2 separate regions of the Homo sapiens genome follow, and region 2 is linked to region 1. The links come from fine-mapping of genetic effects on gene expression. A gene starts in region 1. The other region holds a variant in brackets. All regions are shown on one strand. Distances are from middle to middle. Region 1 holds the start of PHLDB2 (pleckstrin homology like domain family B member 2). Region 2 holds the start of LOC107984087 (a long non-coding RNA gene).

Evidence for each region.
Region 2: its variant is fine-mapped to the expression of PHLDB2 in spleen (GTEx, PIP 0.99).

Annotation. Positions count from the first base shown.
Region 1 is chr3:111,851,737-111,867,515 of GRCh38, reverse strand. It overlaps PHLDB2 (pleckstrin homology like domain family B member 2), which reads right to left and starts at 8,251. Exons shown (of 18, transcript NM_001134438.2): 1 at 7,940-8,251. LOC105374040 (a long non-coding RNA gene) reads left to right here and starts at 6,700. Exons shown (of 4, transcript XR_924333.4): 1 at 6,700-6,856. RefSeq lists enhancers at 6,818-6,927, 7,258-7,842, 7,843-8,429 and a silencer at 7,734-7,793.
Region 2 is chr3:111,795,673-111,811,451 of GRCh38, reverse strand. LOC107984087 (a long non-coding RNA gene) reads left to right here and starts at 12,857. Exons shown (of 4, transcript XR_001740848.2): 1 at 12,857-12,899. It overlaps LOC105374040 (a long non-coding RNA gene), which reads left to right. Exons shown (of 4, transcript XR_924333.4): 3 at 2,171-2,268; 4 at 7,004-12,274. It also overlaps a transcript of PHLDB2 not described here. The variant A/G (reference allele first, on the strand shown) is at 9,031.

The sequences.
Region 1 (15,779 bases):
AAAGTGAGGTTTACAAATGAAACAAGATTAGCATATATAAATAATTGTTGAAGCTGGGTGATAAGTACATTGATCTTTGTTTATTATTTTATTATTATTTTAGTATACATTTAAATTTTTGTGTAGTTTAATATTTTTCATGATAAAGTATCTTTTAAAAAAGCTACGTGCATTCTGCAAGTCAACATCAATAAAATGTGTATACTGCCTTAAAAATTATAGTAGCTGACTTTACAAAGAAGGTTGGGGTCATATCACTGGCTCCTAGCTGATTTTTTTTTTAAGTATAAAATACTAACTCTTTATCATACTGAATTAAGTTCCTAAAAGCTGATACATGTATTTTTAAGTAACTGGGAGAAGTTTGAAAGCAAATACATTTTCAAGATAACAAGTAAGCAGGCCATCACATTTAAGATATTTGCAAGATAACGTTATGTGGGGTAGCTAAGTGTCACCACTGCGTGCCCAAATAATGATTTCTTCATAAAACTGTCAAACCCTCCATATCAAGAATTCCAGCCTCAATTAAAAGGTTAAAATACACACACACACACACACACACACACACACACACACACACACCCCTTAGAAACTTATGTTAAGGAAGAGAGTGGAGGAGCTCTTTAGGTCAAGTTCTTCACAGAATCCTAACCAAGGATCCTGATCAAGTCCCCCGTAAAGCTAGAAGGGTCTTCCTTTACTACGTAATCACCCAGTGAAGTGCAGAATCATGGGATAACTAACTTCAGATACTCTTCTTTAATCACAGGAGTGCTACAGGGAAAAGCACCCTCTGATCTTTTGATCTCAAAGCTAATTTCAAGCAAGAGAATTATCAACCTGGGGATCATATGTAGATAAAGATGCTCTCTCTTGACCCTGAAACCACCTCCGTGGACTTTAACTGGAAGCTGAGGAGAGTGTATGGGAGGGAAACTCTCCGATCTTGCCGCCATCCTGCCCCATCCCACACTACTGATCAAAAGACACTCCCTTAAGAGTAATATTTAATTTTTCCAAAGTAACATTCCCCAGACCTAAATACTTGCTGGAATTCCCATTCCCTAACCCAAGATTTATGAACTGGGAATAGTCAGGGTACAAACAGGCTCACAAGAGGTGGAACAAACACAGGTCAACCACATCTTCCATGTTTGTAATGCATTTCGCTTTACATCACAAATTGAGTACATGAGGCCGGGCTCGGTGGCTCATGCCTGTAATTCCAGCACTCTGTGATGCTGAGGTGGGCAGATCACCAAAGGTCAGGAGTCTGAGACCACCCTGGCCAATATGGCGAAACCCCATCACTATTAAAGTACAGAAATTAGCTGGGTGTGGTGGTGCATGCCTGTAATCCCAGCTACTCGGGAGGCTGAGGCAGGATAATCACTTGAACCTGGGAGGCCGAGGTTGCAGTGAGCTGGATCGCACCACTGTACTCCAGCCTGGGTGACAGAGCAACTCTGTCTCCAAAAAAAAAAAAAAAAAAAAAAAATGAGTGGGTGGGGTAGGTTTCTAAAATATTGTAAAGTAAAAATAATAATTATGATAATATCATATCTTCATTACTTAGCAGCTGATTGTGCAGAATGAGTATTATAAAACACTTAATTTTTCCCTTCCATGCTATCTACCTTTTGACCACTTACTGCTTGAAAGAAGGGAAATAACTTGAACAAGTCAAGATAAACAATTGACTAAGTTTAATTTAATTTTAATCAATGCTTTTTTTTTAATAACTCTGGCCAAAAGATCTAATAAAGGAAATGGTTACGTTAGGATGTTATTTTTATTACAGTGGCCAATCTAGTAGAAAGAACACTGGATAGGCTGCCAGGGAAGCAAGTCAGAAGATCCATCTTAGTTCTGGTTCTGCTAACAGAACTAAGATCTGGAGCACGTCAATTCGCCTGTCTTCATTTTGTTTCAACAGGAGTTTCTCCATACTCAACATGGTGAGAGTGAACTACATGTTCTTTCTGCTCCAACTTTCTGGACTCCCACAGATACTGGTTAAATAACACAGGAGTGCTCATTACATAATGCAGGAAATGGAAATGACCACAGAACAGAAATAGTTTTAGTGATAAGGTGGCAGCTACCTAATTGGGAAAAGATTTCACCGGACTGTTGCCCATGACATTCCAAAGGCATGGTAAATTGTTTTAGCATAACATAGTGGGAAAAAGGCCTGGTCAGAGTTATGGTAATGTAATATAATATGGGTATTTGATTGAGCATGATGTATAAGAAAGGTTTTGTCTGCATTCCCATGGCTTGCAGTTTCCTTAATAAATCTTAAGCTGTTTTTGAAAAGCTACTTCTGCAATGACGTAAGCAGTGAGGCAGCCAGACATCACTTCTCAATCCCCTCTGAATATCTCTTGGCTGTGCGGCACTATTCACACTGGGTCTGCACTGGTCAAAAGAATGTAGGAGCTGGGTTTCTTTTGCCTTTATCTTTCCTTGTTTTAGCAGTAGGGTGGTCAAGAAAGAAATCTTGGAAAACTCTTGTAATCTTTAACTTTTTTGCTATTTCATAGGCTAGTTCCATGAACATACTGCCATCTAGGGCAGTCACATGCAATGTGCAAACAAAACATTCTAAGATGATCAACACCAATTCCCACTGAATTAGCAGCAAGTCTCAGAAAAAGCTGACCTGGCTTAAGGCCATCGATAAACAGTGGCATACACAATATTTTCTTTCCTTTTACTTTGTAAAGTAAGGAAAAGCACTTCATCTAATAAAATCAACCTAACACACTAAACAAGTATCTCCTGTAAAAATCCTCTCAAAAACTTTTTGACTAACCCTGTTACTCTATATCTTATTAATCTGTTTCTTTGTATAGCAATTACCTACAACCTCTAGTTTCCCACACAACAGTAAAATGATTTTTACACTTGGGTTTCTCTTATTGACCACTAGCTGCTATAGACAACTATCTTGCCTTTAAAGCAGATACAGCACAAAGCTCCTTTTCTGCAATGTCTAAGAAACATCCTTAAGCGTCATGAAAACAACTGTAAGCAAATTAACTCCCAGAAGGTTCAAATTCCTGGATGAACATAGAGAGAAGTTCTGCCTTGCTAAATGTTTACTTTGAAGGGATTTGAAAATCTGAGCTAACAATTTTGGTTTCATTTATTTTTAAAAGACAAGTTACTTTAATCAAATCCCAATAAATATTTCTAGCCAACAGTTATTTTTTTAAAAACTACTCCTGTCTCCTCTCCCATCATCTGAAAAACAGTAACAAGAATGGCCAGATGAAAGATGATAATGAAAAGACTGCTACACCCCTTTTGCATAGTACCTGCGGGGGGGCAGATCCCTTAAAAGGGCTATCACTCTTGAGTCATTTCTAAATATATCACTATGTACTTGGCTTTGAGGTGCACCCTTTGGCTAGTTGTCAAAATGATAAGAAACTATCTTAACACTTTTCAGAGGTTTTATGTCTCCCACCAAAGGCATACTAAAAACTTTCCTATATGGCCAGAACCTGTCAGATTTGAGTATTAGATAAAATAACTACCACAGGAGGACAGCTTGGCACCCAGAACTAGAATCTATAATCATGAGCCTAATGGCTAACCATAGCAATGTAAACAGGAGAGTATACATGTTTGTAATTAATCAGGCTATGGTGTACAACTTTTCTGATAATCATAAACTCATTAAGGTAACTCCTTTCTATAAACAGCCATTCACAAATACCATGCTTTTTAAACTCTCCCAAGTAATTAACAATAACTTTCTTTACTATCATTTTCTTTCCCATTAGGTAAACACATGGAATGGTAGAGACTGTGGGTGCAGGAGAAAGTACAATAGAACAGGAGGCTTGCAGATTCTGCCGCTATCTAACCCAGTTAGTTGGTTGGAGGGAAAAGATTCAGATAAGAGGATTTCTAAGGTTCCTTTTACCCCCATAGTTATTTTGTTCTACATGCTGAAAGAATAGCTAAGCTTGAATTGTCTTCTGATTCTTAATCCTAGTTCTATGCAATTGAATTTATATTAGATATCCCCTCATCAGCTTATGAATTTCTCCCACAATTTCCCCAACACTTGCTCATTTCCATATATGCCAGGTGTCTTTTTTTCTTCCATACTCAGGAGGCCTCTGTAATTCTCCCTTCTGTCCAAGCCAGCCCTATCCATTCATGTACTCTACTCTTAACCGATAAGGCAGGGAGGAACAGAAAATCTCAAATGTTCTGTTTTGTACCTGGATTCAAAAGCAACATCTGCTATGTCTGTGGAACCATCTGTTGCCTACTTTGCCATGGAAAGGACAGTACAGGCATCAGAAGTGGAGTGTCACAGGTCATATAATGGAATTACCCCTTTCTGGGACTGGGGCACCCAGGCACGTGCCCCACAGTCTCTATGGCTAATGCCACCCCTCCCCCATCGAAGCATTTATTTATTTTCTCACAGGGAATGGTGCTTTGAAACTTTTACACAAGGTCAGGTCCAGTGTGTTTTGTTTTTTGTTCCCATTTGCCTGAATCTCTATTTTAAAATTTTTAACTCCTGGGTTGTACCTAGAACTTTGTCTGCCCGCCCTTAGCTCGCTTGAGACCTTATGAGTCCTAAAGCTCTGAGTGTCTCAGTTTTTTACATCTATAAAAAGAAGGGGTAGAAATTAAGTGATCTCTGAGGCTCCCTTGTGCTCTAATGCTCCCAAATCCCATGACTTTAATCCATCTCAAAGTTGTCAATGAACACAAGTTCCTCGACCTCTATGGTATATTAAGACTCTAAATGGCAAGGACAAAAGAATCTGCTGCATACAAAACGGCTTCTATGATAAGGGTCTCTTGTTTAACACAGTTAAACAAGTTTCTTGAGGATCCAAATCAGATTAAGATGCCTAATCTTGTTAACCTACTCCCCCAGGCAATACTGTAGTGCAGGGTTTGGGGCTGCATAATTGTTTTTGTGTCCCGTGCATGGCAGGGTGCTTAACCGCATCCCAGGCCTCTACCCACTATATGGCAGTAGCACTCTCCTCCTGTCAGTTGCTACAACCAAAAATACGTTGCCAGTATCCTCTGGGGGCCAAAACCCCTCTCCCAGTGAAAACCACAGCTCTAATGTATGTCAGGACTTTAAGATAAAGCACATCACTTAGGTGTTTTTGTTTCAAAAGAGTGACATTTACACAATCAACAATTGGTACACCAAGACTTTACAGATAGATTCATAAGGCACAGGTACTCCACCTAGAAAATGTACAAAGCCACTGTCACTCTAAGCCATCCACAGCACCATAGCACTGCCTCCCTGCTAAGGGTTGAAAATCAGGATATAAAGCCATAACGTTAACTACTCCTTTAAAAATATTTAAAAGGAGACCGGGTGTGGTGGCTCATGCCTGTAATCCCAGTACTTTGGGAGGCCAAGGCAGGTGGATCACCTGAGGTTAAGAGTTTGAGACCAGCCTGACCAACATGGCAAAATCCTGTCACTACTAAAAATAGAAAAATTAGCCAGGTGTGGTGGCAGGCGCCTGTAATCCCAGCTACTCGGGAGGCTGAGGCAGGAAAATGGCTTGAACCAAGGAGGCAGAAGTTGTAGTGAGCCGAGGTAACTTCTCCAATGAACTCGAGAGTCAACCCTTGCTTATAGATCTCAAAATGGAGCTTTGAAGAAAATAGGGAAAACCAGAGATTGGTTAATCACTTTGGCTTATTTTTTCCTCTCTTGCATACACAACAAACACACATGGTAAATAAAACGTTTCTGGAAAGGTTGCTAACGAGTTTCAGCTTGGTCACAGTTATTGAACGGAGGAGTAAGCAAGCTCTCAGTCCAATTTCCCAAGTATCTTTTCCTCCCCTTTTCAAACAGGGATCCAGGCGACACTCGTGGCAGACGATCTCAACACCAAAAGAACAGCAGCTGCCAGCTGCATAAAACAGATTGAGGCCTGCAAATTGACTGAAATGATGACTACTCTTAACCAGACATCTCATTTTTCCACTTCTGACAGGCTGAGATCTGCAAACCTCTGGGTCTCAAGAGATGAAGGCTACATTAGCCAACTAAGACGACAAACTCAACTCTTCCTTGTCATTAAATAATTTGCCAGTTATAAATGGTTTGGTAACTTTACAGAATTTAAGTACATGTAATGTTTAAATTTCCCCATTAAATGTAAGAGGCAAAGAAAATCCTTTTAAATAACTAAGCAGAGGATATGAAAGGGGAGCCAAGAATAGACAGAACTGTTACTTTTCAAAGAACCTTCGCTCTTTATTCAAACAAATATTTACACAATTGAAGGCAACGGCAAGAGAGATATAGCCATTCTGTTAAAATAGTGGGCAACTCTAACGGTTTATTTATCCCAAATCCGACAGTTCTGTTGCTAACCTACCAGGAACCAAGAATTCAAGTGTTCACAGGGCAAAAGTTTAACCTTCTGAAACTGTGGACCTCATTTAGATCTCTCCCAGCCGAATTCAAACGTTAGAATCCCAGAGACATATCTCGAACGCCCAAATTAAACCAAACTAGGAAGCTTAAAATTACACGTCCAATACTTGAAAACCTACATCTGTAACTTACACGTTCATATTACGAAGGGAAATGTGGCTGACAAATATTTACACTAAAAAGACTCCACATTTTTATGCCTCGTCTAGTTACACTCCCAGCTGTGCCTGGCTATGACTAGTTGTGCATTCTAGAGCTCTTTAGAGCTACTTCAGAGTTGCAGGATAAAGATTTCTAGGGAAGAGGGCAGGGCCAGGCGCCCGGAGGATTTCCAGCCACGGGTAGTTTACCGAGAGAAAAAGCTGCGGGCGTCGCTCCCTCTTTTACATAAGAAAGGTAAGTGAGGAACCGCGAAGCAGTTTGACTTCTCAAGCTCTTTCAAACAGGAAACCCCAACCCTGGGAGGGACAGCCTGTCAGCCTTTTAATTTCCTGGTGGTGGCGGGAGTTAGCCAGGTCCTCGGCGCTTTAATAAGTGATGACTGCTAGGGCTAAGTTATTAAGCGAACCAGCAAACGATTCAGCTGCGCCTCCGCCGCGCAGGGAGCTGGAGAAACAGAGGGTTAAAATACTCCCCAAGCCTTCCAGCTGCTATCTCTAGGGGTGCCGAGACGGCCACACTGTAAACTTTCAGTGGGGGGTCAAAGGCCAAATCGAAATCAGCCGCTTTTGGCGGTTAAAGCTCGTAGGTTCACTCTTGAAAGAAAGTGGAACTAGAAGCGCAGCTAGCCAAATATTTGCGGGGAGGGAGTCTTCTCTGAATCCCGCGCCCTACACCATCCAGCAGCGGACCTTCTCTTTCTCAGGGAGCTATCCCAAGGATCCCCATCCCTCTCTCCATGTGCATTCCAGAGTTGCTGGAAAAAGTTGCCCCCAGTTCCCCCACATTCTGCCTGTTTTCTACAATCACTCTGGAAGCATCTTCCCTACCAGACACTCCCTCCCCGGGATCCCCTCAACCGGAGATCTACCCAGCCCCCCGAGAGTCATGCACAACGGGGTTCGCCACCCCCACCCACCCAGCTGCGCAGCCTGGGCACTGCCGACCCCAGCCCGGGCTTTTGTCCCTACAGCCTGTAAAGAAGCAAAGAAACTCTGTGTCCCCGGAGCCCACTCACCGTCTCATCTTTCCTCCAAACCGCCGCTCTACGCTGGCGCCGCCGCCCTAGCGCCTAGCCTTTGCCCCCGCCCACCCTGTCTCCCTCCGTGAGCCCGCCGGCCCCTCCTGACTCGCGGTGAGCAGTCAGCGCGCCCCTCCTCGGCCCGGGCAGCCACTGCCTCCTCTCCGCCCCCAACCCTCCGCAGCGCAACCGGCGGCAACCAACTCGGCCGCGGGGGAGGCAGCGTCCCCGGGACGCACTCCTGGCACACGGAGTCGGCACCACCCCCTCCTCCCGGGCGACCACCGCCGCCTCCTCACCTGGCCATTGGTGCAGCCCGTTCCCGGCGGCGAGAGAAGGCAGGCGCGCTCCTTGCGCCACGCCACACCGTCGGGCCCCCGTCGGGTCCCCCTCGGGCCGCAATGGTGGGCTCCGCGCGGCTGGGTCCGGCACTCTTGACCCCCTTTGTAACCACCGCGGCGGGCACCCAGGGAGTTCGAGCAACGAAGTTGGTGACCTGCCCCGCTCCCAGGCAGTTTGCTGTTGGGGCTTTCACGGCTGCTGGAAGGGCATGGCTGTTTGCCCCATCACTGGGCGCCAGCTTCTCAAAGCTACGTTCGCAGCAACGCAGTAGGGACTTTCGTGGCAGGCTTTTTTTAAGAGCTGAAAGAAGGGCGGGAGGGTTTACGTCCTAGGGTGATGATTTCCTCACCAGACAGCGAAGTATCTATTGGGAAACTCCAGGTGACCGCACCTCCTTCCGACAGTTCGCCCCGGGGCAAGTTTACCAGCTGCGTCAGAAAGCAGGTTTGCAAAATCCTTGGAGAACGGCCTGAGCTAAGGACTGGGGTCAGGAGGGTTTTAAACTCATTCTGATTTTCTTGCAATCATATCTCTTGAAAGTTTTTATATTTTCCCCAATATTTTTCTGAGTTGCTATATCCAATGAAAACAATGCTGATGTAGAGGTCCACCAGCCAATGCTTTATTGGAAGTCAACGAATGAGACCGAGGGTGGCCCATAATCAATCTCGGCACGCGGGAATGTGAACCTCTTCCAAGGTCTGGGCGAGTCCCTAGAGTTACGCAGATGAAGGACATTGGCCCTCGAGAATCTCACACCAGCAAAGAAGAGCACAACGAAGCGCAAACTACTTATGATCATTGTGGCTTTGGGCAAGTTGTTGTAGCTCCCAGCAACAATTTCTTCACCTGGAGTGCAGCAATAAATGATACTGGTGCTGCAGGGCAGCTAATAAGCTTCTGAATAATATATGCAAAGTACTTGGCACCATGAGCAGAACTCAGTATACCGTCACTGAAGAAATAGCTTATTTAATGATTACACTTTTCATATGTGCAAGTAAAAGTTTGACTTTTAGGGAGAGCCTCACCTACGGAATGTCTTTTTTAAATTTCTTTTTTAATTATACTTTAAGTTCTGGGATACATGTGCAGAACGTGCAGGTTTGTTACACAGGTATACATGTGCCATGGTGGTTTGCAGCACCCATCAACCCTTCATCTAGGTTTTAAGCTCCGCATGCATTAGTTATTTGTCCTAATGCTCTCCCTCCCCTTGTCCCCCACCCCCCAACAGGCCTCAGGGTGTGATGTTCCCCTCCCTGGGTCCATATGTTCTCATTGTTCAACTCCCACTTATGATGAGAACATGCAGTGTTTGGTTTTCTGTTCCTGTGTTAGTTTGCTGAGAATGATGGTTTCCAGCATCATCCACGTCCCTGCAAAGGACATGAATTCATTCTTTTTTATGGCTGCATGGTATTCCATGGTGTATATGTGCCACATTTTCTTCATCCAGTCTATCATTGATGGGCACTTGGGTTGGTTCCAAGTCTTTGTTATTGTGAACAGTGCTGCAATAAACATACGTTTGTATGTGTCTTTATAGTAGAATGATTTATAATTCTTTGGGTATATACCCAGTAATGGGATTGCTGGGTCAAATGGTATTTCTAGTTCTAGATCCCTGAGGAATCGCCACACTGTCTTCCACAATGGTTGAACTAACTTATACTCCCACCAACAGTGTAAAAGCGTTCCCATTTCTCCACATTCTCTGCAGCGTCTGTTATTTCCTGACTTTTTAATGATTGCCATTCTAACTGGCGTGAGATGGTATCTCGTTGTGGTTTTGATTTGCATTTCTGTAATGACTAGTGATGATGAGCTTTTTTTCATATGTTTGTTAGGAATGCCGGGTTTTTTAGAGGAATTCTTTTCCCTGTCCTGAGTTTTTGCCCTGCAGAAGCATACATACACTGATCAATCCAACAGTTAAACAGTTAAGTGCTCCAGCAATGTTCTTTTCTCACCCACGTCATCTCTTTCCTCCTCTTTTTTGGATCATCCCCATAAACATACAATCATTTTATTTCCATTACCTTGGAATTTTTTTTTCTTTTCTTTTCTTTTTTTTTTTTTTGAGACAGGGCCTCACTTTGTCACCCAGGTTGGAGTGCAATGGCACAGTCATAGCTCACTGCAGCCTTAACCTCCTGGGCTCAAGTGATCCTCCCACTTCAGCCTCCTGAATAGCTGGGACCACAGGTGCAGACCACCATGCCCAGCTAATATTGAATTTTTTGCAGAGATGGGGTTTCACCACATTGCCCAGACTGTTCTTGAACTCCTGGGCTCAAGCGATCTGTCTGCCTCCGCCACCCTAAGTGTTGGGATGACAGGTGTGAGCCACTGTGCCCAGCCTCCTACTTCCCCTTTATCACTCACTTAGCCCCTGCCACAGTGGCCTCGTAGACTAGATTCCTAGGTAAATCCGTTCTATCTCAGGGCCTTTGTTCTAATTGCCCTCTCTGCCTATAATTCCCTCCTCCCAAGTATCTGCATGGTTCACTCCCTCACTTCCTTCAAGACCCTGTTCAATGTCACCGTGTTGCTCAGGCCTGCTCTGACCACTCTACTTAAAAGTTTAAAATGTGTTTTCCATACTACTTAAATTTACTTTTTGACAAAGTCACCACATTCTACTATATTGTAAAATGTACTTTTTAAATTATGTTTATTGTCTGTCTCTCCTCACTAGAATGTAAGGCAGGCAGGCAGAGAGTTTTGCCTGTTCTCTCCAGTGCTATATCCCTAGTGTGCCTACAAGGATACCGGACATGTAAATGGTGCTCAAGAATAAATGATGGCTTTGACCCAAAGCACTGTGTTGCAAACATTTCCTTGCCTCGAGCAATGCCAGAAATACACTTGACTACACAGACATCTTAGAGACAACCTTTCTCCCTTCAGGTCTAAGGAGAATGTGCACCAACACAGCACATTTAGAATGGCCATAATTAGATTGCCAATATTTATGTCTAAGAAAAAAATAGCTAAATTTATTGAGAGCAATAATTACTATTGTATACGTATCCGGTATTCTTCCAAATATAGGACAATATTAGTTGATGCGGTGAGAGTTACTGTTTGTTACTACTCCCATTTTATAAGTAAAAAAGGAATCACAGAGAAGTCAGTTGTCACTCAGGTAATAAGTTGGTAGAGGCAGAATTTGAGCACTTGTTCTTGAGTTCATTGTCTTTAATGCTACCTTCTACCTCTTTTCTAAGTATGAATGTTACTAGGGGATATTTCTGTATAATGAATAATTCCAAATTACTAGACAAAAAGTAATCCTCACTGGCCTCCCTTCACTGCCTTGTTTTATCTGCTAGCATCTCTATCTCTTAGGATAGCCAAGCTCCTAGAAGGCAAAGGGAGTCATTTTATTCATATTTGTATGAATCATACTCCAAGACTTATATATGGAAGGGACTCAAAAAGTAGTCATTGAATGTGACTTTTTCAAGTGACTAAACCCAGCAAAGTTTCCCATTCCTGATGAGTTAGAGTGGTTTTCAATAGCTTTCATAAGGCCATAGCAGCCTGAAGATAGACGAGACCACCCTGAAGGTGCAAGTCTTAAATTAGATAAATTCAGTCCAGGCTCAATGGCTCATGCCTGTAATCCCAACACCTTGGGAGCCGAGGTAGCAGGATTGCTTGAGATTAGAAGTTCCAGAGCAGCCTGGCCAACATGGCAAAACCCGTCTCTACTAAAAATACAAAAATATTAGCCGGGCATGGTGGTGCACCATCTGTAGTCCCAGCTACTCAGGAGGCTGAGGTGGGAGAATCACCTGAGAATTCGAGGCTGGGTGATCCATGATCGCACCATTGCACTCCAGCCTGGGTGGCAGAGTGAGACCTTGTCGCCAAAAAAAAAAAAAAAAAAAAAAAAGACAAATGCAGACCTCAACATCTATAGAAAGCACTCAATAAAGTGCAACTGTTATTGTTATTATTATATTACCAGACTTTCTTTTAGTAATGGTGATGGAAAGAAAGAAGAAAGAAAGGAAAGAAAAGAAGGAAGGAAGCAAAGAAGGGAGGAAGGAAGGAAGGAAAAAGAGGGAAGCGCGGGAGGGGGAGAGAGAGAAAGAAAGAAAGGAAGGAAGGAAGGAAGAAAGAGAGAGTCTTTCTACCTTTTCTATTTCCTGGGTTCTTTATAATAAAGTTTTCTGTTTAATCACAGACCAGAGTCCTGCCTGCGCTCTGCCATTCCTTATCACTAGAGATATTGTGTTGTAAACTAAACAGCAGACCTTTCTTGTTTGCCTCTCCAGGATCTGTAGTGGTTACAGTCCCTGATCTTACTTTCCTGTGTCCTTCACCCTCTCAGGTGGGGAACCTTAAAGTGTTGCACAGTGTTGAGGCTAAAGCAACTCTATCTTGGATGCTAATCTGCCATGCTGACTTTTTTTTTTCTTTTTACCCTAATTCCATGGAAGATTACCTGTTGACTTCTGATTAACCCGAGTTCTGGGAATTACTCTAAGATTTGTACTTTATCTACTGATACCTTAAATCCTGCCCCTGGGTCAAAACAACCTTGACCATAAATCCTGCCCATGGGCAGATTCACAGAGCATTCTTGCCTCTCCCCAAGGGGTCGACTTCAATTCTCCTACACATTCTTTTCCTTTAGTTTATGTGTCTTGACTCTGGGAGTGACAGCGTGGAGATGCACCATCTTTTTTCACAGCCACTGGGGACATGGCTTCTGTTCATAAGTCTCTATTAAATGTTTCTTTCTGAGAAACTGGACTTGTCAGCCTCTTTCTTTGGCTTTTCAGCTTCTGTGGTCTTTGGGAGTAGGTTTGTACATACCTGCTCACTTTGAAACACATACAGTGATATTATGAATTATTTATGTTATTCCATTTGTAATTATTTTTGCTATTGTTCTCTTTTATTAGAAAAGATCGGTTGGATTTGATTAACTTTTTATGTCCTGAATCTGTATATTTGCTCCTTTCTCTGCAATGATAGCCTAACAAATCTTTGTAGCTATTAACTCATTTCAATCTTACTGCAGTTTAACTCATGGAACAATTGTTTGTGCTGAAGTTCGCTTTAATATTATGATGATTTAATGAATCAAGAAGTTTCTACTTGCAAAGTGCAGTGGAAAAATCATTGACTGTGAAGTAAGGCAGAACTGGGTTTTAAGCCCTGATTCAGCCCCTTTGCTAGCTAATATGGTTTGGCTCTGTGTCCCAAACCAAATCTCACCTGGAATTGTAATTCTCATAATCCCCAAGTGTCAAGGGTGGGACCAGGTGGAGGTAATTGGATCTTGGGGGCAGTTTCCCCCATGCTGTTCTCATGATAGTGAGTTCTCATGAGATCTGATGGTTTTGTAAGTGTCTGGCATTTCCCCTTCTTGCATTCATTCTGTCCTGCTGCCCTGTGAAGAAAGTGTCTGCTTCTCCTTTGCCTTTTGCCATGATTGTAAGCTTCCTGAGGCCTCCCCAGCAATGTGAAACTGTGAGTCAATTAAACCTCTTTCCTTTATAAGTTACCCAGTCTCAGGTATTTCTTTATAGGAGTGTGAGAACGGACTAATACAATAGCCAAGTAATTTGAGTGCATTATTTATCTTCACTGAGAAGCAAACTTCTATTCTGAAAAGTAAGAACTATTTTTTTTTTTTTGGAGATGGAGTCTTGCTCTTGTTGCTCAGGCTGGAGTGCAATGGCACGATCTTGGCTCACAACCTCTGCCTACTGGGTTTAAGCGATTCTCCTGCTTCAGCCTCTGGAGTAGCTGGGATTACAGGCATGCACCACCATGCCTAGCTAATTTTGTATTTTTAGAAGAGATGGGATTTCACCATGTTGGTCAGGCTGGTCTTGAACTCTTGACCTCAGTTGATCCACCCACCTCGGCCTTCCAAAGTGCTGGGATTACAGGTGTGAGCCACCGCACCTGGCTGAACTCACATTTTATGAGCCAGTGTGTTAATGTAGGTACCATTCCTTGCACAGAGGACAGACAGCACAAAAAGAACACCCAGCAGAGTAGTTTCCAACCACGTTTGCCTTTCTGGAACTATTGATAATGATGTTGACCATTGAGTTATACACTGACTGTCCTATATAAGTTCAGTTCCAATTTACACACTCTTTTTAGTACTTAGATAAATTGTCTCTCTAAAAAATGAATGTACTTTCATTTCTTAGAAAAGTCATCTTCATCTATTTTCACATTGGATCTGCAACTGTTGTTAAGGGAAACTATGTAACCCACTGTTTCTCTTTGTATCCTTGTTGCCAGGAAGCCCAGAGTCAAGCTTACCATTAAATTTTTGTGTAACGGTAATAAAGACTTTGCTTTCCTCTCCTTTTTAAAATGTTGATGTATTTTTATTCCAATAACCTTATTGAATATTTGGTTTTTACTATACATTCTCTAATATATATTTAAATAGATAAAGTATAAATAACATATTAATCAAATTAATACCAGAATGTTAACCAAAACTAAAGTGAAAATAACTTTTTAACCTCCTAGGGGCATAAAAAGGGAAACACCTAATTTTTGTCTCCTCAAGTTTAATGATTATCCCCATGTGCTGGTTTATCTTTAAACAATTACAAGGTAGGTTCTCTAATTATGAGAAAAATGTAAATCTATTTGGAACATCTGATTAATTTCTGCATTAAACGTTCTCCTTCTGCCCTACCCCCAATCTTTTCTGTGAGTCTGTATTGTAATCAGGCAGGAAAAGGATGGTGTGTGTGTATGTGTGTGTGTGTGTGTGTGTGTGTGTGTCTTTTAGATTAACCTATCCCAGCTGTGTTATCTGGCTCACTTTTCTTATCACTTGAGGACCCTGAATTGGTCTACTTTGCCTGCGTAGTGGGCTTAAAACAAGGAGTTTCTCTGTATCTTATCTGCTTATCATGGAAAAAAGAAACCAACACCTTAACAGCAGTATTCCTCGATACTGAAGAGAACTCAGCTTCTCTTCTCTCTGTTGGTTTTCTTTGTTTTTCCTTTCATCTGACTTTCATCATCCCTCCAGTTATACCATACCTTGATTTCAATTTGTCCTTAATGTTATACATAAAGATAATTATATTATGTATAAAGATAATTATACATAAGGATTATTATAATATATAATCCTATGTATAATATTAATTTATGTATATATAATATATGTGTATTATATATGATCTTTACATATAACATAATTGTATATATAATATATATTTTACATATATATGGAGAGAGAGAGAGCGAGAGAGAGAGGGAGAATGCCACCTTGGGCATCTACCCAATTTGGATAGATGTCCAAATTGATGTGTCAGATATACACAGACTTCAGCACACGGGAGAATTCTGACAACTGAGAGCAGGGGCCAGGATTCAGAACATGAGGAATGTTAAAGGCAAATTTACGAAGCACCTACTCTGTTTTATACTGCCTAGCATATAACTGTAATATGATAATGTAATATATACTAAAAAACAATGATACAGAAGAGTTCAGGTGAAGGGGTATTTGTGTCCTATGAGTCCAACAGGGAAGACAACATATGTGAGTTTCATATTGAAAAAAAAAAGGTTGAGGGGCCTTCTAGGCAGAGGAAAGACCATGAGCAATGTAGGAGGACAGTAAAGCCAAGGCAGATTTGGGAAAGAGTGAGTAATACAGCCGCCTGAGCTGGGGAGGGAGGAGTAGGAGATAAGATCTAGGGTGCTGGGGCCAGATTTGAGGAAAGGGGAAAGATGGGGCTTTGAATTTTAGGCTTCGCATCGAATACCATTTTAATTATGTCATTT
Region 2 (15,779 bases), 56 kb after region 1:
CCTAATCTACCCTTTAATTTGCCAGTGAGAAAACTGGGCCATTTCTTCACCAAGACTAATTGGTAGCAAAATATGCATAATGCAAGAGTTCTCCTGACCACAGTAGAATACATTTTTTAAAATGATTTCATGAAGAGACTTGGACTCTCCTATAGCAATGATTACTTTCTGTTTCATGCAAACACCAAGTCCTGAAAGGTTCCTTAATGGGATAAAGCTTCTAGTTTTGTAGGTACTTGGTTTTATTAGTTAAATGCTAAATGGAGTACATTTTTATAGGAGGCTTTAACTGTAAGACCAGTTACTTAAATCCTCCTGAGAAATATCCTGATGACTCAGGATGAGACATCCCCTGGTCTCTTCTTGCATCCAAAGTCCTTTTTGGCTCTGCTTACAGATTATCCTGTTTAATAGCAAAGATGTTTCCCTGAGGGGGTTCATGGAGCATGTATCTGGGCCATTTACCTAGGATGACAGCTCTTTGAAATCTCTTCTGTATCCTCTTGCAGAGCTAGTTTAGTGCAGATACAACTGTACATCCCTACACAGATCAAACACATTTCCCAAACTTACTGTCCAGTGTATTTATTTATTATATTATATACTGAGGATCTTTGTAAAATTTATTTTGGACAAAGGATTCCGTTGTCAAAAATAAGGCATTTGGAAGACATATTTTTAAAAATGTGTTGCTTTGAAGAGTAACACTGATTTCTACATTTAGGGATAGTCTGTGTGGGTTGCTATATCATTGCTATGGACGGAATAGCGTCCTTGGAAAATTTATATGTTGAAGCCCTAACCCTCAATATGACTGTATTTAAAGAGAACTTTTAGGAGGTAATTAAGGTTAAATGAGGTCATAAGAATGGGGTCCTAATCTGATAGGATTAGTGGTCTTAAAAGGAGACGACAGACAGAGCCCTCTCTTCACATACATGCACCAAGGAAAGATCATGTGAGCACACAACAAAGTGGGGGCTGTCTGCAAGCCAGGAAGAGGGCTCCCACCGGAAATTGAGCATGCTGGCACCCTGAGCTTGAACTTTCCAGCTTCCAGAATTGTGAGAAATAAACTTCTGTTGTTTAAGCCGCCCAGTCTATAGTATTTGTTATGGCAGCCTGAGGAGATTAAGATAGTCATGCAGAGTAGGCCTAGTTTCAGAAATGGACATGAAAACACACGGTAATATGGTCCCAGATAGGCCCCTTCCTGGAACACATATTTCCTATCTCAGGTGCTCTCAGGTTGTGGTTAGTGTGTATGGCCTCTGTGTGTGTCACCTTGCATTTGGCTTAATAGCCTCTAGCTTCTTTCAGATAGCTCCATGGCAGTGTTAGAGTGATGCCCTACTGGTGTTTCCTTAGGATTGTTAACCATAACATGATGCACTAACGCTCTTAAACCAGCCTGGACAACATAATGAGAGCTCATCTCCACAAAAAAGTTTTAAAAAATTACCTGGGTGCAGTGATGCATGCCTGTAGTCCCAGCTACTTGGGAGGCTGAGGAGGGAGAATTCCTAACTATAGGTTGTACAACAGAACTCTAGAACGTCTTCATCTTGCATAACTGAAATTTGTTACTCTATTATATGCTTGAGGTGTATCTAAACTCTTGAGTTTGCATACTCTTTTATTACATCATGACTATTGTCTTCAAACCTTTACAAGTGACTGGGCTGATAAACTTAATTTAAAGTGACTCTTACTTCAGGTAAGTTATTTCATTGATTCATATTTCTTCCAAACTTAGCACCACCACAAATCAGAGCTTCTTGATGATAGGTAAATCTGCCAGGCTTTGCCTTAGCAACAAAGAAAAGCAAACTTACTAAAGATATTTCAGGGTCAAAGACCTGATATACAGTGATAAGTTGGCATTAGATAAAAAGAATCCATTTTAAGAACTGAGGGAGCTAATAAGTATGTGGGTGTTTGTGGAGAAAAGAAGAGGAAATCAGGCTTGTGAGGCTGGGCAGTGGCCCACTGCTGGACTTCAGATAGACTTTTCAGATTACTGACATGCCATAGAACCACAGGCTTGGAGACAGCATTCTCATAAGGGAAGAGGTTGAGCATAAGGTCACCCAAAGGCAGAAGAAAATATTTATTTTACTATTTAGAGTTGTTTTCCTTTCTTTAAACAAACTCTCCATCAATTCCACAGCAAGAGCTTTCTTCTGGCACATCTGGTTTATGTGAATACATTAGTGAGTTTCCCAGGAAGCCGCAGCATCACACAAAGGCCCATGATCATTTCACCAGGTAATGATTAATGTCATGTTACAGTTTCACAATATCATAATTGAATAATCAATTAACTAAGGTTTTGTGAGTACTATGTGTGAAGAACAATAATTTATTTATGTGACTATTCCTCCTCGATGACAGCAGTCAGTTCCTTCTGGAAAGTATAGATTAAGCCATTGCATTTCTTGGTAAATAAATATACTAGTCAAAGACCAAGATATTATTTATGTGTATGTACTAATGACTTTAACAGAGATATAAACCCTTATTTTAGGAATTGTTTAGTACTAGTAGTAGAGTTCTAAATGGATGCTATATAAAGAATTTGCTCTTTATTATATTAGTTATGAGAATTACAACCAGTGAATCATAGTAACTGGAAAATACCTTAGGGTTATAAAAGGAAATCCATTAATTGTACAAATTAAATATTTGAAGACCAAAGAGGGCAGGAGACTTATCCAGGCCTCCTGAGTCTTTAGAGTTTTTAATTAGAGCACCAGTCCATGCAGATTGTATTTGTCTTCTTGAAGCTGTGACTCATGAGATATACATGTATTGCTTAAGAATACATGTTTACTCTTTCTGCACTACCTGAGTGACAGGATCATCCATGTCCCAGACCCCAGCACCACGCAGTATACCCATGTAACAAACCTGCATGTGTACCCTCTGAATCCAAAATAAAAGATGAAAAAAAAAAAAACCCAGAATATATGTTTAAACACCCAGCTCTGACCGAGGACTCAAAAGAAAAGTGGCAGCACAGGATGTGGAGGTGAAGGGCAACCTCCTTTTTCCGAGCAGACATAGCTAATGTCATTCATGCAAAGCCCTTATGTTTGATTGCACAAACATACAACACCATGTAGAAAAATAAGAAAAGATCATCTGTGGATAGAACATCTGGGTGGGTACAGCTAGTCTCTGTGGTTTGTCTCTTTCTAAGATGTCAGAGTGGCATACTCTAAAGACAGTTCACCCCACAATTTTGAACACATTCCCTAAGACCCAGAGAATCAAACTGTTAATGCTGCTGTGAGTTCTTTACAATGGTTTTACATTAATATTGCCAGGAGAAACTTTAAAATCACCAATGCCCCAGCCCCTTTCCAGACCGATGAAATCAGAATTTCTGGGCTGGGTCCCAGGCATTGGTAATTTTTAACACTCCCCAGGTGACTCTAATGTGCAGCCAGGCCTGAGAACTATTGAGTCACTCATAAAATTAGGCAAAAAAAAAAAAAAAAAACACCCAGCTTATTTATAAAATGGTCCTCTTATCAAAGAAATAAAGCAATGTTCAGTTAACTACATTTAGCAAATAATTCCCAATTTAGCTGGCACTGTCTTAAATCTGTGAGATTCATTCTCCTCCTCTTCCTATTCCTCTTCCTTCTCCTTATTCTCTTCTCCTTCTCCTTCTTCTTCTCCTTTTTTGAGACAGGGTCTCACTCTGTCGCCCAGGCTGTAGTGCAGTGGGTCCATCATAGCTCACTGCAGCCTTGAATTCCTAGGCTTGAGCAATCCTTCAGCCTCAGCTTCCTGAGTAGTCAGGACTACAAGTGGGACTACAGGACTACAGGCGTGTAAATTAAAAAAATCACGCGCCTGGCTATTTTTTTTAAATTTTTATTTTTTTGTAGAGATGGGGTCTTCCTATGTGGCCCAGGCCTCCTGGGCAAACTCCTGGCCCCAAGCAATCCTCCCAACTTGGCTTCCCAGAGTTGCTGGGATTACAGGTGTGTGCCACTATGCCTGGCAGGGATTCATGCTTCTTTTGAGATTTAAATAAGTCAATGTTTAAACCCTAATCTTCAGTTTCCAACATTTATGACTTTCCCTCTTTATGTTCTTTGTCTCAAGATGAACATTTGTACTTTAAGTGATTTTCTAGTCAGCAATTATCATTTATTAAATTCCTAATGTTTGCCTGTCTCTATGTTTGGTACTCTGTACACTTAATTTATTCCTCACAACAGAGCTATGCATTAGACATTATTATCCTCATTGTATATAAGGGAAAATTGAATCTCAGATAAGTTGAGTTGGATGGCTAGAAATAGCCATTCTGATCCCCTAAACCAGGTTTATTTTTTTCCTATTCTAGTATCCTGTATCTAGTATACTGTATCCTGACAATAGCATGGTGTCACAGCTAAGTCCTGGACTGAGAATCGGCAAATGTGTGCTCTGGACCTGCAACTAATGTCTCTTACAAGTCCCATAACTAGAACTTCTTCATCTTAAGAAAACAAAAAGGGGCTGGGCATGGTGGCTTATGCTTGTAATCCCAGCACTTTAGGAGGCCAAGGCAGGAAGGGTGCTTGAGCCTAGGAAGAAGTTCAAGACCAGCCTGGACAACACAGTGAAACCCCATTTCAAAAAAAAAGTTATTAAAAAAAAAAAGAAGGGCTAGGTGCAGTGGCTCATGCCTGTAATCCCAGCACTCTGGGAGGCCGAGGCAGGCGGATCACCTGAGGTCAGGAGTTCAAGACCAGCCTGGCCAGTGTGGTGAAACCCTGTCTCTACTAAAAATACAAAAATTAGCCAGGTGTGCTGGCTCGTGCCTATAGTCCCAGTTACTTGAGAGGCTGAAGGCACGAGAATTGCTTGAACCCGGGAAGCAGAGGTTGCAGTGAGCCAAGATTGAGCCACTGCACTCCAGCCTGGGTGACAGAGTGAGACTCCGTCTCAAAAAAAAGAAAAAAAAAAGAAGAAAAAAAAAGAAAAGATTCAAGAAGGCAAGAAAGAAGCCAGTCACAGAAGACTACATTTTGTATTATATAAAATTCCATTTATATGAAATTTCTAGAAAAGGCAAAACTATAGAGACAGAGAATTGGTTCGGTGGTTGGCTGGGGTGGGAGAGGGGATTGACTGCCACAGGTGTGAGGGAACTTTCTGGTGTGATGGGTATGTTTTAAACTGGACTGTGGTGCTGGTTGCATAATCATATATAGTCATCAAAAATTCTATAATTGTACACTTACAATGGGAGAATTTTATGATATGCAAATTATTCCTCAATAAGGCTGTTAAAAATGGTACTGGGACTTGCACTAGAAGATGACTGCTATAATGATTCTAGAGATACTAACTCTTTATGGCATTTTCACAGCAGATAACTTGAATTGTTGAATCTTTAACAACATTTTGACCTGTTTTTTTATGTACCCATTTAAGTATCCAATTGATAACTCTTGACCAATTCTCTGTCTCTATTGTTTTGCCTTTTCTAGAAATTTCATATAAATGGAATTTTATATAATACAAAATGTAGTCTTCTGTGACTGGCTTCTTTCTTGACTTCTTGTATCTTTTCTTTTTTCTTCTTCTTTTTTTTTTTTTTGCATACATCTATGCAACCACCATCACAATCAAGATATAAACATTTCCATCATCCCAAAATTTCCCTGTGTCCTTCCCAGTCAACACTCCCACTCACCACCCCTGGCCCCAGGCACCACTGACCTGCTTTCTGTCACTATAGATTAGATTTGTCTTTACTAGCATTCCATAAAAATGGAATCAGACAGTATGTATACTTTTGTGTCTGGCTTCTTTCACTAAGCTTGCTGTTTATGAGACCCATCCATGTTGTTGCATTTATCCAGTAATTTTTTTTCTTTTTTTTTGAGACGGAGTGTTGCTCTGTCGCCCAGGCTGGAGTGCAGCGGCGCAATCTCGGCTCACTGCAAGCTCCGCCTCCCAGGTTCGTGCCATTCTCCTGCCTCAGCCTCCCGAGTAGCTGGGACTACAGGCATGCGCCACCATGCCCAGCTAATTTTTTTGTATTTTTAGTAAAGACGGGGTTTCACCATGTTAGCCAGGATGGTCTCGAGCTCCTGACCTCGTGATCTGCCCGCCTCAGCCTCCCAAAGTGCTGGGATTACAGGCTTGAGCCACAGCGCCCGGCCCCAGTAATTTTTTTTATTGTTGAGTAGTATTAGCTTGTATGGATATATCATAATTTGTTCTTGGCTATAATGAACAAAGCTGCTATAAACATTTATGTACAAGTCTTTTGTGGACTTATGTTTCATCTCTCTTGGGTAAATTCCTATATCTAGGAGTAGACTTGTTGGGTAACAAGGCACACGTATGTTTAACGTGTTAAGAAATTGTCAAACTGTTCTCCAAAGTGACTGAGGTTGACACTTTCAAATTCTACATTCTTGCTAGCAGTGTATAAGACTTCTGGTTGCTCCACATCCTCCCCAGCACCTAGTATTGTTCTATTATTTTATTTTTCACATGAATAACTTTTTATTTTACCAAAAACTTGATATTGTTCTATTGTTATTTATGTCAATATTTTATTTCTCAGTGAAATTTATTACATAATTTTGAAGTTTTTCTCAAAATAAGAAGTGGCCCACTTTTTAGAAGCCCTGTGTGCAAATTAATTCTTACTGTTCAGCATCACAGTTATTTAAAAAGTCAAATAAACACTGCAGTTTAGCAAAGTTTTCCCCCCAAAATTTCAATGGTAAGTATTAGCTGTAATTTTAAATAAGAAATGAAAGTTTAATTGGGCAAAATCTGGACATCCACATGGAGTAAAGTAGAAACCTATTAGTCAAGTGATGTGGGACTAATTTTTTGAGGTTTAGCTCCATTATTACTGTACTTATGCTGCAGATAGTATATCTTATACTCTGCGTAGAAAACAATACATCAGTAGGTTGGGGCCTAGCATCATCATTTACTTTTTTGCATCTGAGGCTTCTTTCTTTATTTCTAACAGGTTGACCTGAACATCATTGGCTAAACATAGGAAATCAAGAAATTGTTAAAACTTCGCCAAAGTTTTCTACCTCTAATAGTTAAGAGATGATGAAGGGAAGACTCTGTTCTTCAGAAGAATTCAATAATGTCTTCTTTCACAGGCTTTAAAAGATTATCTCTTCAAAGATTCTTCTAACTTTTTGTTTGTTTATAGACCATGTGTTCTCAATAGGAACAATATTGTCCACCAAAGGGTGAAAATTGGTTCTTGGGGGGTTTAACATTTTCTTACTATTTTAATGTATAAAGCACAGATATACCTATATACAGTTCACAAACAACATAATGGTGTCTCTGTGGCATTAAATCTCATGGAGGAGAGGACGATCAGAAAAAATGTCTAAAAAGGCTTCTTTAGGGATGTGATACTGAACAAAAGTTTAGAAACTGAATTAGAGGACAGGAAAGGCACATAAAGAGTTTAAAGGGACTAATCAAACAGGACGTTTTCAACTGATTACATGAATTTGGTCTGAGACTGATTCCTCAGAATGCCCCCCACTCTCAAGATACCATTTCACCTGAAGTCATTAGCTTTGGAATAGAAAGGAACAAATCTACGCTTTGTTAAGAAATATTTGTAAATTGGAAATTTTCATTCTTTATCTCACTTTGTTTTAAAGCAACATCAGAGAAAAAAATTGTTATATCCATTTTTTATAGCTGAGGGAAGTAACGCTCAATGAGGTTAACACTTTCAAATTCTACAAAGAATACACAGTTTCTGAGTGTAATTAGTGAATGTAAGAACCTGAGTTTGTTTGATTTCAAAGCCCATGATTTCCTCCCACTCATGTGCTAGCCAGGGATTGCTGGTGGGTGAGATGGTGTTCCATTCTACTATCCTGAGTTCACTGAAAATTGACTCAAATGCCTGAGTCAGGAATTGATGTGTTCTCACAGCTCGAATTCTGGGAAGACTAGTGGTGGGGGTGGGGCTGTCACTAAGATGTCCAGGAGTTCTGCACGGGGTGGTGGGGGCACATTCTCCCGGGAAGTTTCAACTGGACTGGAGTTTACAGGAATCCAAGAGCTTTGGCTAGAACAGAACCAATCTCAGGATTGCAGAGAACCCTGTTAGTAGCAACCTTACATTCCATTCCATATTTGTCAGTGAGGGAGAGGCACTCTGATCCCCATCAGAAATTTGAAGAACCACATAAGTTTTGGCTAGCTGCCTGTTCCCTCTGCTTCACAGCTTAACGATGAAACTTTTGTTTGCTGTGTTCTTCCATCCTCTGCTCCCAAGTAGCAGATGCCAACCAAGGAATGACTGCTGATTTCAAAATTAGAGAGATGGCCATATAGACTATGAACATATAGATCATTTCTGCTTTTTCTTTTGTTTCTAGAGATTAGTATAAAACTTTTTGTACAACATCCCCTATACTCATTAAATCTGTGACATCCTTGTTGCTACCTGATATCATATATCTGCTTTATTTTATATTTCTGCTTTTCCTTTTCCAGTGACAGGTTGCCATTTTAAAGATGATTAATTATCTATCATTTGGGAGCAGGACCATAACCTTTAACTTTTCCTGACAGGACAAAAAACATGTGTTCACACCACCCACCCTTATTGATTCTCATGGTAAGGAAGAAGAGAGGATCATAAACTAGAAGTGAAAAAATGGAAGTTTTAGTGCTTTTTCTTTAAAAGAGAGAGAATGCATGATGCTTGCCTCACTCTGCTGTAACGAATGTAAGTTAAAACTAAAATACAGTTTAGAAAACTTTCACATATTACTCACAAGAACAAGCTATGAGTGTTGTTATTTTACTATTTGCTAAATGTATAGTACTAATGTCTCTTCTAAGGGACAAATATCAAGCATTTCACAAGAGGTTACACGTCATCTTGCTCTATGCTAGCATGGAAATAAATGAGAGTTGGGAAAACAGGAAATAAATATTCTAAGTTATCAGGGAATGCTGCCAAGGCATCATAGGAGTGTCATTAGTTATTTTGGTTTCTCAACCAAG[A/G]CCTGAGATACAAGGCTAGTGGGTGGTGTCTAGGACAACACAGAGAAAATGAGGAAGCTCTTGGAAAGTGCTCTCCCCTTGCTCTGTCTCCCCTTTATTCTTCACTCTGTAGGCCAGATCCTCTGGAGGCAGAATGCAGCCACCACTGTGTTTACACTTTGGTACAAGAGAGGTTTCTTGTATGTAAGCACAGTGCTCCATGGAGCCATAGAGATAGCTGGTGGCACTCTGCAGTTTTCTGTGCAGTAGCTTGATAGACTGGAGAAAGCCTGAACTAGGAGCCAAAGTTTTGATGTTAGATGCATAATCATCACAAGTAACACAAATCAATTTTTAGCAAGTTACTTAAATCTTTCTATCCTGGTTAATTTATTGTTTTACATTCTAAAAATTGAGATAGAATTCATATACTATAATATCCACCCTTTATAAAGTCTAGAATTTGATGATATTTGTGATTACATTCACAAAGTTGTGCAACCATCACTGCTATCTTATTCCAGAACATTGTCATCATTCCAAAACAAAACAAAACAAAACAAAACACCCATATCCATGAGCAGTCACTCCTTACTCTTCCCTCCTCCCAGTCCCCAGCAACCACTAATGTATGTTCTGTCTCTATAGACTTGACTATTCCACACATTTCATATAAATGTAATTATATGTTATGTGATCTCTTGTGTCTGTCTCCTTTCACTTAGCATAATATTTTCAAGGTTCATTCATGGTGTTACATGTATCAAAATTTTATTTCTTTTTATGGGCAATAATACTCAATTGTAGCTTATTGTTTAGTCACTCATTCATCTGGTCATCCATCCTTCACCTACTCTTCACTGAATACTTATTATGAACCAGCCTTGTCCTAGGCTCTTGGGACACATTTATTCATATTTGTGACATGAATGAATAAAGGCACAAATTTATTAACTATTATATAAAGATAAATATGAGATCTTCATATCACCTCAGTTAAAAATATTGGGTGAACAGATTGTTTATGAGCTTTTAAAATTTTGAGGTCTTTGTATCCAAAGGAGACCTGAGTTCTTGTTTAGTTTCTGTGTCTACTTACCCCTTGAAACTTAGATTAGAGGAGGGAGGGAGGCCTGCTTCATGAACCCCAGGACTGTGGGTTATTTCAATGTGGCCCTGTGCTCAGAGGGGCCTATGCTTGTTTTAACACTCTGTTGTGACTGTCTTGAAATTCTTAATAACTTTTGAACAAGGGGCCTTGTATTTCATTTTCCACTGGGCCCTGTAATTTATGTGGCCAGTTCTGAAGGGAGCAAATATTTATTAAGTGTCTACTCTGTATTGGCCATTGAATTTGACCCCACAGCTCATGTTGTTTAACAAGTCACATTTCTCTATTTTAAAAATGAGAATGTTACATTTAATATTATTTAAGGTCTCTTCTATGTCTAAATTTCACTAATTCTAAGTCTTGCAAAATGATCTATGAAGGCAATGTATTATACTTGTACCAGCTGATTCATCTTTTCAAGATTTATCTTAATTGGCATAACTTCTTAGAAATCTTCCTTGATTCTTTCCCCAGCCAAATTTAGTAAGCTTTCTTTTGTGTTCTCACACTCCCTCAGTGTTATTAACAGAGCTTTTTATAAAACTGGATTTTATGAAGTAAAAATAGTTTCTGTCTCTCTCATTGCATTGTATGTCCCCTTTAAATCAGGTACTGCATCTTAGTTAACGTGTAACTTGCAAAATGCTTCTTAAAACAAGCAGGATTAAAGAGTCCAATAGTAAAAATGAAAGTTCAGAAATGCCAGTTCATGACATTATTAGAGATGGGAAAATCTGAGGCAAACACATAGTCCACAACAAAGTCACTGGAATATAGAAACTAAAGATATACAGTGAGAAAAGAAATTAGGACATTTGCCCAAGTAAACTTAACTTAAAAGAACTATAGTTTTAAAATGATATATGCATAATAGTATAGGAATTTAATAAACAAAAAGTAATACAAAAGTAATACCTCTCCATAATTTTAAAATAATCAAAAGGCACAGAGGGTATAAAATAAAAATTTCTTTTCATGTAATTTCCCAGTCTCATTTTCCAAAGATATGCTCAATAAGAGTTTCTTGGCCAGGCATGTTGGCTCACGTCTGTAATCCCAGCACTTTGGGAAGCCGAGGCAGGCAGAAACTTGAGCCCACGAATTTAACACTAGCCGGGGAAACATGGCAAAACCCCATCTCTACAGAAAATTGCAAAAACTAGGTGGGCATGGTGGTGCATGCCTGTAGTCCTAGCTACTCAGAAGGTTGAAGTGGGAGGATTACCTGAGCCCAGGGAGGTTGAGTCTGCAGTGAGCCGTGATTGTGCCACCACACTCAAGCCTGGGTAACAGAGTAAGACTCTGTCTCAAAAAAAAAGTTTCTCGAGTATCCTCCTAGAAATGCTTTATGAGGAGTACATTTATACACTCTTGTTATTGCACAAATAGGATTCTATTTATATTTCTATATAGTTATTTTCCTTGCCTTTTACTTAGTAATATTTTTTAGACCTCCTCCCATATTGGTATCTATAGATCTCCCTAATTCATTTTCAGGAGTGCATAGTACTCTATGACATGTGTTGAACACAGTTAAATAAAGCAGTCCTTTCTGATGAATACATAACATTGTTTTCAGTTTCTGTAAATTATGGAAAACCACAATAGATATCTTCACATAGGAAGATATTCACAGTATAAATTTCCAGCAGTGAAATTGCTGGAAGTCTTTATAATTTGATTTTAAGAAAAACTTAATTCAGTACCCAACCTGATGTCTTTGAGACAATTTCACATTTACTTGTTTGTTCTTCTCCCTCACCTTCCTTTAGAATTTCTTTTTTCTGATTGGGATGACATATTTCTAAAGTATTTCTAGCTTTCAAAAAAATAATTTATAGAAAATCAGTCTATATTTTTAAAGACCAATTGAAGCTGTCTACCTCACCAATGTGAAGAACTGAAGTAGAATTTAATTTTCTTTTCTAATACTTTTTTCTAGTATTAAATTCAAAGACTACTATTCCTCTTTTATTTACAGCAGTCTGTGTTCAAATTGTGCTGACACCATGATAGATTTCAGAGTGATTTTTTTGGCTATGTGGGCCTCTCCCATTATAATAAGAGTACCAGCTTCTTAATGCTTGTGATATGATTTGGCTGTGTCCCCACCCAAATCTCATCTTGAATTTTAGTTCCCATAATCCCTAGGTGTCATGGGAGGGACCCAGTGGGAAGTAATGGAATCACGGGGGTGGTTTCCCCCATGCTATTCTTGTGATAGTGAGTTCTCACAAGGTCCAATGGTTTTATAAGGGGCTTCCTGCTTCACTTGGCTCTTATTTTTCTCCTTGCTGCCACCATGTGAAGAAGGATGTGTTTGCTTCCCCTTCTGCCATGATTGTAAGTTTCCTAGGGCCTCCCTAGCCATGCTGAACTGTGAGTCAATCAAACCTCTTTCTTTCATAAATCACCCAGTCTTGGGTATGTCTTTATTAGCAGCATGAGAGTGGACTCATACAGCCTGTCTCCATGTTAGCTCACCTTCCTGGCCCTCATATGAGGTCTAAACAACACTCCTTTGCATAGTAGAAATTCAGCATATATTTTGAAATTGATTGTATTGGAAACATCAAAGATGCCAGATCCTAGAATTGTTCAGATTAAAGATAAAATAACATTTTATTTTATTTTATTTTATTTTATTTTTATTAGAGACAGGCTCCGGCCCTGTCACCCAGCCTTGAGGACAGTGGCATGATCATAGCTCACTGCAGCCTTGGCCTCCTGGGCTCAAGTGATCCTCCTGCCTCAGCCTCCCAAAGTGTTGGGATTACAGGTATGATACACTGCACCTGACTGAAAATATTTTAAATAAATGCTTTAATAATTTCATTGCAGTTTTGTGGCCCAGGTAATTTTCACTTAATCTTACTTGATTACAGAAAGCAGTATGAAAAGTAAACACAAGGAAGCCTAGAACATACCAAAATTCTCCTATACAGATGATTTGAGTTTTAAATATTTTTAGGTCTTATTTCCTTGCTTTCTTTAGAATGATGGTAAAAATTGACTTTTTAAACATCTTTTGAAAAATTAGAGCACTCTCAGATTTAGAATGTTCCCTGATTCTTTTTCTTCTTCTTTTTTTAAGATAGAAAATTTGGGAGTAAATTATAAAGGCCAAGGTCTTAGAAGTTCACCTTGTTTTCTATTCCTCTACAATTGTTTTTCAAATTTTTCAAATTTTAATTTTTTGAGATAGGGTCTCACTGTGTCACCCAGGATGGAGTGCAGTGGCATGATTTTGGCTCACTGCAGCCTCAACCTCCTGAGCTTAAAGGATCTTCCCACCTCAGCCTCCCAGGTAGCTGGGACTACTAGCATGCACCATTACACTTAGCTAATGTTCTTATGTTTTTATAGAGATGGGTGTCTCACTATATCGCCAAGGCTGGCCTCAAACTCATGGGCTCAAGCGATCCTTCCACAGTGGCTTCCCACAGGGCTGTGATTACAGTCGCAAACCACTGCACCCTACCCTATTTCTCTACAATTGAGTAATCACAATTGCGTAGCTTTCGGCAAATCACTTCATTTCTCTGAGGCTTGGTTGTTCTGTTTTCTGCAAAGTTAAGAGCATCTTAAATATCTATCCAGTTCTAAAATGGTAGGACATCAAAGTGGGAGTGATGGTGGAGAAGGGTTGTGAAAGTTGCTTGTAAACATATTTAGCAGATTTACAGAAGTCAAACAAAGCAATGAAAAAGTTCCACATATAGGAGGAGTTTAAAAAGACACAGATGGTAGCAAAAATAGAACCAAGGGATTTTTGCCTTTGTCTCATGACAGACTGTCTTACGGAATCCTTACACATGGATTGAATTGCTTTCAAGTAAGGCAGTCAACAAGAATATGAAGGAAAAATTCTGTGGCAATGGCTGGGCCTCTAGTTATTCAGTGTCTGAGATAAGAATTAGGAAAGTGAGATGGTCTATAACCCACAATAACTACTCTCTGTGTGTGTATGTGTGTGTGTGTGTCTGCCTAAATAGAACTTAAACCATTCAAAGTTCCACATCTTTCTTTTTCATTTGTTAATTTCTTTAGCATCTGCTATTCATTAGGCACTGGTGATATGTGGTCAGTGGGGGAAACAGATATTGAGTCAATAATCACGTCAACACATAGATAATGACATATTGTGGCAATGCTAAGAATGACAGTAAATATAATGAGAAACTAAAGCAGGGTCACTCATTTAGATTATGTAATCAATGAAAGCCTTCTTTGAGGAGATCACATTTAGCTAAGACATGAGGCATGACCAGAAGGTAGGCAGGAAAAGAAGATTTTAGGTAAAAGGGTAGACTAATCCTGAGCTAGAAAAGGGTTAGAGGAAGTTTAAAAACAAACAAAACCAGTCATGTCAATAACCTAGAGAAGAGCAATAGGGAATAACACTAGAAGGCTTATAGGCCTTGTAAATCTTGATAAGAATTTTACATTTTATTATTGTATATCTTACTATTTGAGGATGTTACACAATCTGATTTGTGTTTTTAAAATCTCCCTCTTGGGCCAGGCACAGTGGCTCATGCTTGTAATCCCAGCCCTTTGCGGGGTCAAGGCGGGTCAGGAGTTTTAGAACTGCCTGGCTAACATGGCAAGACCCTGTCTCAGCTAAAAATACCAAAAATTAGCCAGATGCATGCCTGTAATCCCAGCTACTCAGGTGACTGAGGCACAAAAATCGCTTGAATCCAGGAGGCAGAAGTTGCAGTGAGCCAAGATCATGCCACTGCACTTCAGCATGGACAACAGAGTGAGAGTCTGTCTCAAAAACAATAAAAAATAAAATAAAATCTCCTACTGGCTATTCTGTGGAGAATCTGTTAGAAGCGAACAAATGGGGATTCAGAGATTGGTTTAAGGAGATATAGAGAATTACCAGAATTAGGAAAGGGATAACATCAGGATGATAGCAGCTTGAACTAGGTAACAGCAAAGGAGCTGGAGAAAAGTGGAGAGATTTTGGCCATATTTTGAGGGCAGAATCAACAAGACAGTGTCTTAACACTTCTGGTATTTTGTTTGTTTCTTTTTAGGTTTCATTTACTTTGTCTTCACTACATCTAGTAAAAATGAAAAGGCGTTTTTCTATTCCTCTCTCCCTCTAAAGAAAACAGGTCTTGGCTGGATGTGGTGGCTCATGCCTGTAATCCCAGCACTTTGGGAAGCCGAGTCAGGCAGACACCTGAGGTCAGGAGTTCGAGACCAGGCTGGCTGACATGGTGAAACCTCGTTTCTACTAAAAATACACAAAATTAGCCCGGGCGTGGTGGCGGGCGCCTGTAATCCCAGCTACTCAGGAGGCTGAGGCAGGAGAGTCGCTTGAACTCAGAGGGCGGAGGTTGCAGTCAGCCGAGATCGCGCCACTGCACTCCAGCCTGGGCAACAGAGTGAGACTCAAAACAAATAAACAAACAAAACAAAAATTAGATGGGTGGGGTGGTGCACACACCTATAATCCCAACTGCTGGGGAGGCTGAGGCAGGAAAATCGCTTGATCCCGGGAAGCGGAGGTTGCAGTGAGCCTAGATCACATCATTGCACTCCAGCCTGGGTGACGGAGCAAGACTCCGTCTCAAAAACAAAAACCAAAAAAAACCTACCCAGGTCTTTACTTATGAAAACTAGGTAAACTGAGGCATGTTGA